Linked DNA regions of Homo sapiens. The protein of the gene in region 3 interacts with the protein of the main gene of each other region in a pairwise test. Each region holds a gene or a part of one and is shown on either strand. Other genes may lie near its edges. The genes, in order: ABHD16A, CSGALNACT2 and TMEM143.

Region 1 (3,585 bases), on a different chromosome or scaffold from region 3:
CCTCCGTCCCTGGCAGGGCCTGTGTTTGTTGAACTGCAAAAAGGCTGTGAGGACAGAGACTTGATGACATGGCAAGGTGGGTGTGCAGGGTTTGCTGCATAAGACGTGGGGAGCAGGCCCTTCCTCACTCTTCACCAAGATAACAAGAGGTGAGCAATGAAAATTGGGGGTACTGCTAGTAACACCATGCAGGTTGAACCTGGAAACCAGCAGAAGCACTGGGTAGGTGAAATCGGATCCTAGAAAGCTCATGAGCCGTAAGCAGGAGGGGGCAACCATGGGCTCCTGGGGTGGTTGTATGCAGGAAGAACTGAAGAAGGAGGCGGGAGGGGCCAGGGAGGCTGCACAGTTGTGATAACAGTAGGCACATCAGGGACCGGGGAGGTTTGGGGACCTGCTGCCTGAGGAAAGCTCAGGTTAGGGGCTGAAGGCCTAGGGGGACACAGAGATGGGAAGGGTTAGATTAGCTAGATTGTCTAGAGTTAGGGTTTCCCAAAGCCCAGCTCTTTGGGGCCTCTGCTCTCCCCACTACCTGCCCCTGGCTCCCTGGACACTTGAGAAGTTATACAATTAGCCTGATAGTAGAAAAAATACCTTTTTATTAATTATTAGGAATAATCCATTCATGTAATGCAGGATGTATGTTGGAGAAGGTTAAGTACAGCCACATGAATGAGGGGAAACGTGCAAGAGGAACAGTGGTGAGAAGGGGGATGGTCCCCCACTTTCCACAAACTATAAACAGCAACATGAACACAGAGAATCACAAATAAGAGGGTCTTTCCTCATGTCTCCTCTCACCCCATTCTTCCATAATGAGTCCCAGTTGGTCCCTAGAGGTGCCAGGGCATCTGGAAGTTCTGGGCTGGGAGTGGGGTGCAGTGAGTGGCCTCAAAGTTGTGCAGATGCTTCCGAGCCTGAGGAAAGGAGGTGGGACAGGTGGGGTACAGAGCACTGTTGGGAGGGGCAGCCACTGGACTCCCTCCCCACCCTCCACTTCCGCATCCACCACCCACTCTACAAAAGCTGCCACTTCCAATGCTTATAGGGTATCCCCAGTCCCCCTATGTGAGCCCTGGCCATTCAAGAACCCTTCCCACTTCCCACTCCTTAGCTCACCAGAAACAAAGCCAGCTGCCGCCGTCCATCTGCACTCATGTCCTCCCCTGCAGAGAGGAGGCGCTCAAAATAGGCCACACATCTGGGTATTCATCCCCTTCCTAGGCCCTTCCCACCCTCTCTCCTGCCCCAGGAGCTCCTTACCCACGCTCCAGGGGAAGTCGGGCCCGTGTTCTGCCTGGTAGGAGCGGAGGACAGACAGACACCAGTCCTCTTCCACCTCCCATCGGCTATAAATTGAGGCTGGTCAGGGAGAGAGATGACAGCCAGTCAGCAACCTGACCTTGCTGGGCCCCCGCCCCAAGCCTCACTGGATCCCTTCTCACCTTCCTCCAGCTGTGAGGAGGCCTCCAACCACTGCCTCACCACTCGAAGACCCTCCTCTGCCATCACCCGGGGATACCTACGGAGGAAGTGCCAGGACAGGTCAGGGCTGATTTTTTTTCATTCACCATCCCTGAACCTTCCTCCCTCCTTCCCTGTGCTGGTATCAGTATCTGTGTGTGTACACTGCCCCCAGCGCGCACACACCCTGGCTCTCACCGATGCTGCAGGAGCTTCAGCAGGAGGTCATTGCCTCGGTTGGACATGATGTCCTCAGGAACCCTGGGGGTGAGAAGAATGTACCCTGGAGGGGCTGGAGGTTAGGAGGAAGGGTCTAGATACCCAGGTTTCTGGTGGGCAGAGGTAGAAGGGACAAGTTCCTGGCCATCTCTGGGGTTCCTGAGGGCCGAGATTCCCACGCACTCACGTGGTGGTGATGATCTCATCCTTGGTTCTCCGGATCAGCAGTACAGGACCCTGGTATCTTCAGAGAACAGAGCAGTGGGAAGGGAGAGCTCAGAGGGAGACGGGTGACAACTGGCCCACCCCTATCCCTGCACTGGTAGCATTCTTACCCTCCCCTTGCTATAGCACAGCCCTTGACCTAGCCCTTCACTCAGGGGTGAGAGGGGATTATTTAAGGGGCATGGTTCAGTCTGGCCCTGCTGGGAGACCCCTGCCGTGCCAGGCCTTAACCCTTTGGTTGCCAGATCCTGAGGTGGTCCAGAGTCCCAGGGGACCTGGGAGGGGTTAGGCCAGTTGAGGTGGTGGCAGGGTCACTCAGGATGTGAGCCAGTGGCCTTTTACCAACTTGCACTTTAGTACTAGTTTCAGGGTTTGAGCGCCCAGCAGAGCTGTATGGGGGGCAGGTGTTCAATGCCGGACGCTGGCCGGCCCTCACCTGCACAGCTGCTCCGCGTTGTTTAGATTGAGATGCTGCCTCACGGTCCTGGTCACCAGGCCCCCTAGAGTGGGATAAAGGTGAAGGGATGGCAGAGACAAAGCCCTTGCCCAACATAAAGGTCCTCACTATTCACGGAGAAAGAAAACTGAGGCCCCCAGACAAAGGAGTCCTCCTGCTTCCAACAATGGGGCGACTTACTCCCCACCCAAGAAAAGGGAGCCATCTCAGAACAGTTCCCAGTTCCAGCCCACCCCTTCCCAGGAAGGGCAGGCCTGGGAGCTGCACTCACTCCAGCTGTCTGGCATGACCTTCAAGGCCAAGGGCACCAGGTCATCAAAGGAGGCATCCAGGATCATGGCACTAACATCTGGGTAGGACATGGCTGCCCACGTGGCTGGTACCAGGGCAGGGAAGAAGAGTAAGAACTGAGAAAGGCTCCTTTCTCCCCACCACCCATGCTCTCATCCCACTGACCCTATAGGCCAACCCCATTCCCCCTATGTTATCCCTTGTTTTTTTCTTAACCTACTTCACTTGGTTAGGGAACTATCTGGAGAGGATGGGGATAGAACACTGGAGATAGTGCACTGAAGATAATGGGCAGGAAACATTCACTTTCCCTGATCTCCCCACCCAGGACCTGGGTCTGCTTTTCCTTTTAATGACTGGGCACAAGAGGGGAAGGAAAGGTGAAGTGTATGCAAATAGGATAGCTTCTTCCAGGCCCACTCAGAGATTCTACTTCCTCTCTCTTCTTCCTTGAGCCTCCACCCCACCCCATTTCCCCACCTCTCCCGGGTGGGGCTGGGTGGTCATGAATGTGTCTACAGTGGGGGATGGGAGGGAGGCTGGTACCAGTGAAGCCGCCGATGGACCAGGCGTAGATGATGATGTCCTGGGGCTGGAAGCCTAGGCGGTGGATGGCAAACTGGACCACCACATCCATGGCATTAGCCTCATTCTGCGGGAATGGCACCCCCTGCAGGAGAAAGGGCAAAGTCAGGAGTGTGTCAGCACCAAAGGCCAGCTCACCTGTCCCTCCCAACGTGGACCCCTCCTGCAGCCACCTATGACAGGCAGAGAAGGTGTAGAAGGAAGGGATGGTAGGAGAGGTTGTTCTCTCCAGAAGACGGATGTGTACAATGAGATCTACCTCCTCCTCTCCTGCTAGCCCCGCACTGTGGGGATGGGGGCATGGCTCCCAATGCTGCCTTCACAACCTCCTAGACCCCAGCCCT
Region 2 (3,650 bases), on a different chromosome or scaffold from region 3:
GAAAACTGCCCATTGCCACCCCACATACTCAGCATCAAGTGGAGGCACTGATCACAGAATACCCCTCACTCTCTGCCCACCCCAACCACAGTAATTTCCTAGGGGTGGAGACCAGGCTTAAGCTGGGCCAGTCCCAATACCCCCACCCAACCTGGCCATAGTGATTGGCTCAAGAGTGGGCAAAATGTCCTTCCCTGGGATTTTCTCAACTGGAGCTGGGAGAAAGCTCTTTCCTCTCTGATGGCAAAGCTGAGAAGATGTGAGCCCAGAGCCGCCAACAGTCATATCCCTCACCATGTGGAAGAAGCCAATCTGCAACAGGAGAATGAAGTCAACATGCAGAGAAAAACAGACAAGGAGACGAGAATTTTGATGGTATTCAAGTCTCTGGTTCCAATCCCTGAGAAACAAGAGTTGTTTTGATTTTCTTCCCCAAATTTGGTTGTAACAATCCCTTTATTTCTGGGAGGTATCCGAGATTCTTCAATACTGCTCCTATTTTCCTCAAGCAAGCTCAAGGTAGGTTTACACCATTTGCCACAGAAGTGTCTTGACAATACTTCAGTATTACCAGTGTGAGCTTGTGGCACTTAGTAGGTGATCTAAAAACACTAAGGAGGGACAGGAAGGGAAGAAATGGAGGGAGGGGGAACCAGGGTTAGGGTGGTGGCAGTAGCAAGGAAGAGATAGAGAAGAGGTCCTGTGAATTAAGTAGGAACTAACTAATTAGAGGTAACTGGAGGCAAAGAATAAGTAAAAGACTGTGGCTCTCAGAAGTCATGCCCAGATGGTGAAAATGGTTTTACTCTGAACTGAAAGAGGGCCATCAGGAGGAGGAGCTGGTGTAGGGAAGGGGAAGACAGTGAATTGTGTCTATATACATCAAGGCTCTGAGAATCCCTGCAGGTCAGGGACTCAGATTCACTCATCTACGCCCACTCTTCTTCCAACTACCCCAGTCAAACTCCCAAGCAGTGTACCTGGAACACAGTAGGCAGGACTCAATGAATGTGAGTTGAATGATTTGAGAAGAATGGCTGATCAAATCTGGGCTCTTGGCAAATGGCCACAACTGGCAGAAAGGTAAAGAAGCAAGTAAAGGATATAGAGCTGGTGTGGTTAGAGATGATAATCAACCTAATAGTTTACATTACATCATACTTACATTTACAAAATAGTTACATTTTACAAACACAAGAAGAACATTTTAAGACAGAAATACTGGTTAGGTTGTCAAAGGTAAAAAAGCAATGAAAAAGAATAACAGAAAAGAATTTGGCAGTTAAGTCGTTATCTTTGGGCCCATGATTTAGAAAGAAAAAGGCTGAGAGGCTAAAGAATTAATAATTAAGTACTAAGGGATTACTAATTCATCCATTCAAACCTCTGAGCATCTACTATGTGCCAGGTACTATATGACTTGCTTAGCTATGAACTACTGTCTCGTGATGTTGAGCTGTGAAAGGACAGAAACATAACAGTAGTGGCTGGGCACTTCAGAGTTGAGTGGGAGTTTCTTAAGGATATGGGAGACCTCAACATTGTTAGCAGGGGGAGAAGAAGGAGCCTGAGGAAATGGAAGGAAAGAAAGGTGACAAAAAAGAGACAAATTCAGAAGATGATTATGTCAAAGTGAAGGAATTAGATTTTAAAAAAAGGAAAGCAGCAGCAAATACACAGAAGGTGAGTGGGCCACAGAGAAAGCATCATGCCAGGCTGCTTGCTAAGCAGTGAAGGGAAGTTGAGTCATGTAGGGTTGCATGTGAAATGAGGAACTTATCATCACCACCACCGCCCACATGCTCAGCCAATTTTTAAATAATAGTTACTAAAAATTATTAACTCATTACATATCTGAAATTCTCTTTTAGCAATGTTATATATCAAGGCCTTCACTGCAGATGTGGTTCACCAACCTGGTGACAGATTCTAGGATAGACTTGACTTTAGACAGTCCTTCTTTACCAAAATACACCACTGTGAGATGAATCTTCTTGTCTTGATGAATACAAACATCCCTAACAGAAGTGAAAAATAAAAGTTTATTCAAGAAAACATGAGGCACTATTCATTAAGAAAGCAACCACATGAAGCTTTAACAAGAAAATGAGGCATTACTGACACAGTAGTAAACATAAATGTGGCAATACTGATGAATTATGGAAGGCACAAGGTCTATGCCTGAATGAGTGCACCCCTTGGAGGGCCATGGAAGCAGTCTGACATTGCTGCCATTATTTCAAAACATTTTTTGAACTTTTGCTTTTGGATTGCTTTCAGAAGCAAATCACAAGCTATTCAAGGAAATAAACTCAACTGGTTCAGAACCACATAAATAAATACTGACCTTTTGGATTAAGAGTTATTTTGTCTTCAGACTGGCTAATTCCAAAAATTGTAACTATCATTAAGGAATAAATATTTGCCATGACTGAGATTACTTACTGTAAATAATAATGTGGCCTTTGAAAGTAATTCCAAGAAAGGCAATAAAAAAATGCTTTAGGAAATCGGATCTCAAGTGAGCTATTTGGAACAGTAAATCTCACTTGGAAGTATGACTGCCAGACATTCAGCTGCAGACCAGTTTTAATTAACCTTTTAAATCCAACAATTTCAATATGAGAATAAAGACTAGGATCACAAAGCATTAAACCAGTATATCAAAGTATCTAAAACATTAAAAATATTAAAGTATTAGAAACATGGAAACTGTTAAATCAAAAAGCATTTTCCACAAATAGTTTTCATAATGTGTAGATAATTATTTAACACTTCAGCATTTTAAAATATACAAATTTGATAACATAAAAAAACTTTACAAATTCTCTGCTTTGCAAGCTGAAATAACTTTCTCCAATTTTTAGTTTAATGTTTGTATGTCTAAATGTATTTCAATTAAAAAACTCAAATCATTCTCAAGGGGATTTTCTTGTGAGACACAAGTATTCTGTATCTTAATTGGGGTGGTGGTTCGTGAGTGTATACGTTTGTCAAAAGACATTAAATTCCAGCCTGGACAACATGGCAAGACCTTCTCTCTACAAAGAATAAAAAAGATGGCATGCACCTGTGGTCCCAGCTACTTGGGAGGTTGAGGCAGGAGGATCACTTGAGCCCAGGAGGTTGAGGCTGCAGTGAACTGTGCTCACTCCACTGCATTCTAGCCTGGGTGATAGAGTGAGACCCTGTCTCAAAAAAAAAAATAAAAATAAAAAAAGAGTCATGATACCTATATCCTTAAAATATGTGGATTTTACTGCATGTAAATTATTCCTTAGTAAAGTTGATTTTTTAAAAATTCAACTTGTCTTAAAATGAATTCAAAACAATTATCAAGGCCATCAAATTTAGTTTCTAATAGGTGTCACTCTTAATTTATTTCATAGTTCAAATTGTCTATAACACAATATACTACACATGCTTTAAAAAAAGAGAGAATATAAAAAAATAAAGTTCCCCTAAAGCCTGTAAAATTATTCTAAGTAATTATAATCGGTGAAGATAAATTAAGGAAATCTGAGTAAAACGTGATTTTTTTTAGGAGAATGTAGCTTAATCATTAAGCCCTGACAGTTACCTGAAGTTCTGCATAAATTGTACAAATGCTTCAGTTCTTTCAGCAAGTGGCACAATGATATTAATAATTG
Region 3 (3,650 bases):
CCTCTCAGGGCCTCCACAAGGAAACATCTTTTAATACATTTCACTTCTTTTTTTTTTGAGACATAGTCTCACTCTGTTGCCCAGACTGGAGTGCAGTGGTGCGATCTTGGCTCACTGCAGCCTCCGCCTCCCGGGTTCAAGTAATTATCCTGCCTCAGCCTCCGGAGTAGCTGGGATCACAGGCATGTGCCACCACACCCAGCTAATTTTTGTATTTTTAGTAGAGTCGGGGTTTCACCATGTTGGCCAGATTGGTCTCGAAATCCTGACCTCATGTGATCCACCTGCCTCGGCCTCCCAAAGTGCTGGGATTATAGGCGTGAGCCACCGCGCCCAGACTTTTTCTTTTTTTTTTTTTTTTTTGAGACATAGTCTTGCTCTGTCACCCAGGCTGGAGTGCAGTGGTGCGATCTCAGCTCACTGCAGCCTCCGCCTCCTGGGTGCAAGTGATTCTCCTACCTCAGCCTCCCGAGTAGCTGGGACTATAGGCACCCGCCACCACACCCAGCTAATTTTTGTATTTTCAGTAAAGATGGGGTTTCACCATGTTGGCCAAGCTGGTCTCGAACTCCTGACCTTAAGTGATCCGCCCACCTCGGCCTCTCAAAGTGCTGGAATAACAAGCGTGAGTCACTGTGCCCGGCCAAATTTCACTTCTGTACCTTGTTGCTGGTCTCTTCCTCAGTAGAACAGAGCCTGTGAGGTACATCTCTCATGCTGTCCACTGTCTCCCAGAGCCTCAAGCCATTCCAGAGACACAGTAGGTGCTCAATAAATATTTACTGAGCGAACTCAATGAATGAATGAATCAGCGAAAAAAGATCAGAGAGAGGTCACCCGCCAAGGTCACCCGCACCACTAGTGAACAACCAAGCTATTGTTTGAACCGAGGCTATGCTGCTTCTTTCCCTGCCCAGGCCACATCTTCAAAGGACTTAAGTCATCAGCAAATGGTCACCCAGCGGGCCTCACCCGCCTCTGCCACTTCTACCCTGCCCCTGCCTCTGTTTAAAATCTCCTGCCTGGGAGATATATGCTTATTCACTTATGTTCTTTCTACATTTCTATATATTTATACATTTCTATAATAAAATAGGCTTTTTTTAACTTTTTTTTTTTAAGAATCTTGCTCTGTCACCCAGGCTGGAGTGCAGTGGCGTGATCTTGGCTCACTGCAACCTCCACCTCCCGGGTTCAAGTGATTCTCATGGTTCAAGTGATTCTCATGCCTCAGCTTCCTGAGTAGCTGGGACTACGGGCACCCCCCACCACAACCGACTGATATTTATATATTTAGTACAGACAGTTTCACCGTTTGCCAGACTGGTCTCGAACTCCTGGGCTCAAGTGATCCGCCTACCTCGGCCTCCCAAAGTGCTCAGATCACAGACAAGACATACCAAGCCCAGCCTTAACTTTTAAAAAAATAGAAAAAGAAAAAAACAACCGTGGCTCCAGAGGCCATAGGTGCCCTGTGGAAGAGCTTGGAGGCAGGCAGACGGGGGCTTGATCTCGACTCCACCAATTATGAACTGTGTGATCCTGGGCACAACCCGGGCCCTCTGAGACATTCAGTTTCTCCATGTATGAATGGGCTGATGGCGGCTGTCTCTCCGCACTGCAGGAAGGAGTCAATAAGCCAGACACAGCAAGCGCTCAGCAACAAGGGGCTGTGATGGCCACTGTTGCTGGGGTTGTTATTATTCAAAGCAAAGTGCGGAGCTGCAGAAGGCAGTGGTGGGATGTGGCGAGGGGTGAATGCAGCAGGCCTGGGTTGTCCAAACCCCGCACATTCCAAAGAAAGGACCGGCCCTGGACCAGCTTCTGGGAGGGAACCTCTAAGCCCTTGGAATGTCCTGACTGATAAGAGTGTCTTGGTTTACCTGGGGCCTGGGGCCACACTGGATGCTGTGTGTTAATGTTGTCATCTATGGTCAGGGCCTGGAGCCACTGAGCATCAGTTTGACCTCGGAGGGGCTGGAGTCTCAGGTCAGCCACCATGCATATGTGACTGACCCCCAGTAAAAACCCTGGCCACCCAGGCTTACAGGAGCATCCCTGGTTGGCAGTACTGCTTGCGTGTTGTCACACATCTTGCTGGGAGAATTAAGTGCCGTCCATGACTCCACCGGGAGAGGACAGCTGGACGCTCACGCCTGGTCTGTCTTGGATTCTGCCCCATGTGCCTTTTTCCTTTTTTTTTCTTTTTTTTTTTTGGGATGGAGTCTCACTCTGCTGCCCAGGCTGGAGTGCAGTGGCACAATCTCAGCTCACTGCAACCTCCGCCTCCTGGGTTCAAGTGATTCTCCTTCCTCAGCCTCCTGAGTAGCTGGGATTACAGCTACTGGGATTACAGCGCCACTATGCCCAGCTAATTTTTGTACTTTTAGTAGAGACAGGGTTTCACCATGTTGGCCGGGATGGTCTCGATCTCCTGACCTCGTGATCTGCCAGCCTTGGCCTCCCAAAGTGCTGGGATTACAGGCGTGAGTCACCACGCCCGGCCCTCCTTTTTTTTTTTTTTTTTGAGACAGAATTTTGCTCTGTCACCCAGGCTGGATAGTGCAGTGGCAAAATCTCAGCTCACTGCAACCTCCGCCTCCTGGGTTCAAGCGATCTCCTGCCTCAGCCTCCCAAGTAGCTGGGATTATAGACATGCGCTACCAGGCCCAGGTAATTTTTTTTTTTTTTTTTTGAGATGGAGTTTCACTCTTATTGCCCAGGCTGCAGTGCAATGGTGCGATCTTGGCTCACTGCAACCTCCTCCTCCCAGGTTCAAGCAATTCTCCTGCCTCAGCCTCCCGAGTAGCTGGGATTACAGGCATGCACCATCACACCCAGCTAATTTTGTATTTTTAGTAGAGACGGGGTTTCTCCATGTTGAGGCTGGTCTCGAACTCCTGACCTCAGGTGATCCGCCCGCCTCGGCCTCCCAAAGTGCTGGGATTACAGGCGTGAGCCACAGCACCTGGCCTTTTTTTTTTTTTTTTTTTTTTTTTTTTTGAGATGGAGTCTCACTCTGTCACCCAGGCTGGAGTGCAGTGGCGCGATCTCGGTTCACTGCAAGCTCCGCCACCTGGGTTCAAGCGATTCTCCTGCCTCAGCCTCCTGAGTAGCTGGGATGACAGGCACATGCCACCACACCTGGCTAATTTTTGTATTTTTAGTAGAGACGGGGATTCATCATGTTGGTCAGGCTGGTAATTTCTGTATTTGCAGTAGAGACAGGGTTTCGTCATGCTGGCAAGGCTGGTCTCGAACTCCTGACTTCAGCTGATCCACCTGCTTTGGCCACCCAAAGTGCTAGGATTACAGGCGTGAGTCACCGCGCCCGGCAGTACTACCATCTATTAATAGATCCTCCCACAGCAGTTTCTCAGCCCAGACCTCTCCCTTCACCTCCAGATCCACATATTCAAGTCTATCTTTCTTTTTTTTTTTTTTTTTTTTTCTGAGACGGAGTCTCACTCTATCGCCCAGCTGGAGTGCGGTGGCGCAATCTTGGCTCACTGCAAGCTCCGCCTCCCGGGTTCACGTCATTCTCCTGCCTCAGCCTCCCGAGTAGCTGGGACTACAGGCGCCCGCCACCACGCCCGGCTAATTTTTTTTTGTATTTTTAGTAGAGACAGGGTTTCACCGTGTTAGACAGG

The links.
Region 1: the proteins of TMEM143 (region 3) and ABHD16A interact in binary tests that used the Homo sapiens proteins (3 or more experiments, as listed by UniProt).
Region 2: the proteins of TMEM143 (region 3) and CSGALNACT2 interact in binary tests that used the Homo sapiens proteins (3 or more experiments, as listed by UniProt).

Annotation. Positions count from the first base shown.
Region 1 is NC_000006.12:31,686,379-31,689,963, forward strand, and holds the end of ABHD16A (phosphatidylserine lipase ABHD16A), read right to left. Parts: exon of another isoform or gene 3,327-3,585; coding exon 3,203-3,326; intron 2,742-3,202; coding exon 2,637-2,741; intron 2,409-2,636; coding exon 2,345-2,408; intron 1,928-2,344; coding exon 1,871-1,927; intron 1,726-1,870; coding exon 1,663-1,725; intron 1,523-1,662; coding exon 1,446-1,522; intron 1,363-1,445; coding exon 1,264-1,362; intron 1,167-1,263; coding exon 1,120-1,166; intron 918-1,119; coding exon 834-917; 3' UTR 577-833; downstream 1-576. UniProt on the Homo sapiens protein: Phosphatidylserine (PS) lipase that mediates the hydrolysis of phosphatidylserine to generate lysophosphatidylserine (LPS). LPS constitutes a class of signaling lipids that regulates immunological and neurological processes.
Region 2 is NC_000010.11:43,158,862-43,162,511, reverse strand, and holds part of CSGALNACT2 (chondroitin sulfate N-acetylgalactosaminyltransferase 2), read right to left. Parts: coding exon 3,581-3,650; intron 3,189-3,580; coding exon of another isoform or gene 3,164-3,188; exon of another isoform or gene 3,148-3,163; intron 2,019-3,147; coding exon 1,917-2,018; intron 313-1,916; exon of another isoform or gene 152-312; intron 1-151. UniProt on the Homo sapiens protein: Transfers 1,4-N-acetylgalactosamine (GalNAc) from UDP-GalNAc to the non-reducing end of glucuronic acid (GlcUA). Required for addition of the first GalNAc to the core tetrasaccharide linker and for elongation of chondroitin chains.
Region 3 is NC_000019.10:48,353,920-48,357,569, forward strand, and holds part of TMEM143 (transmembrane protein 143), read right to left. Parts: intron 1-3,650.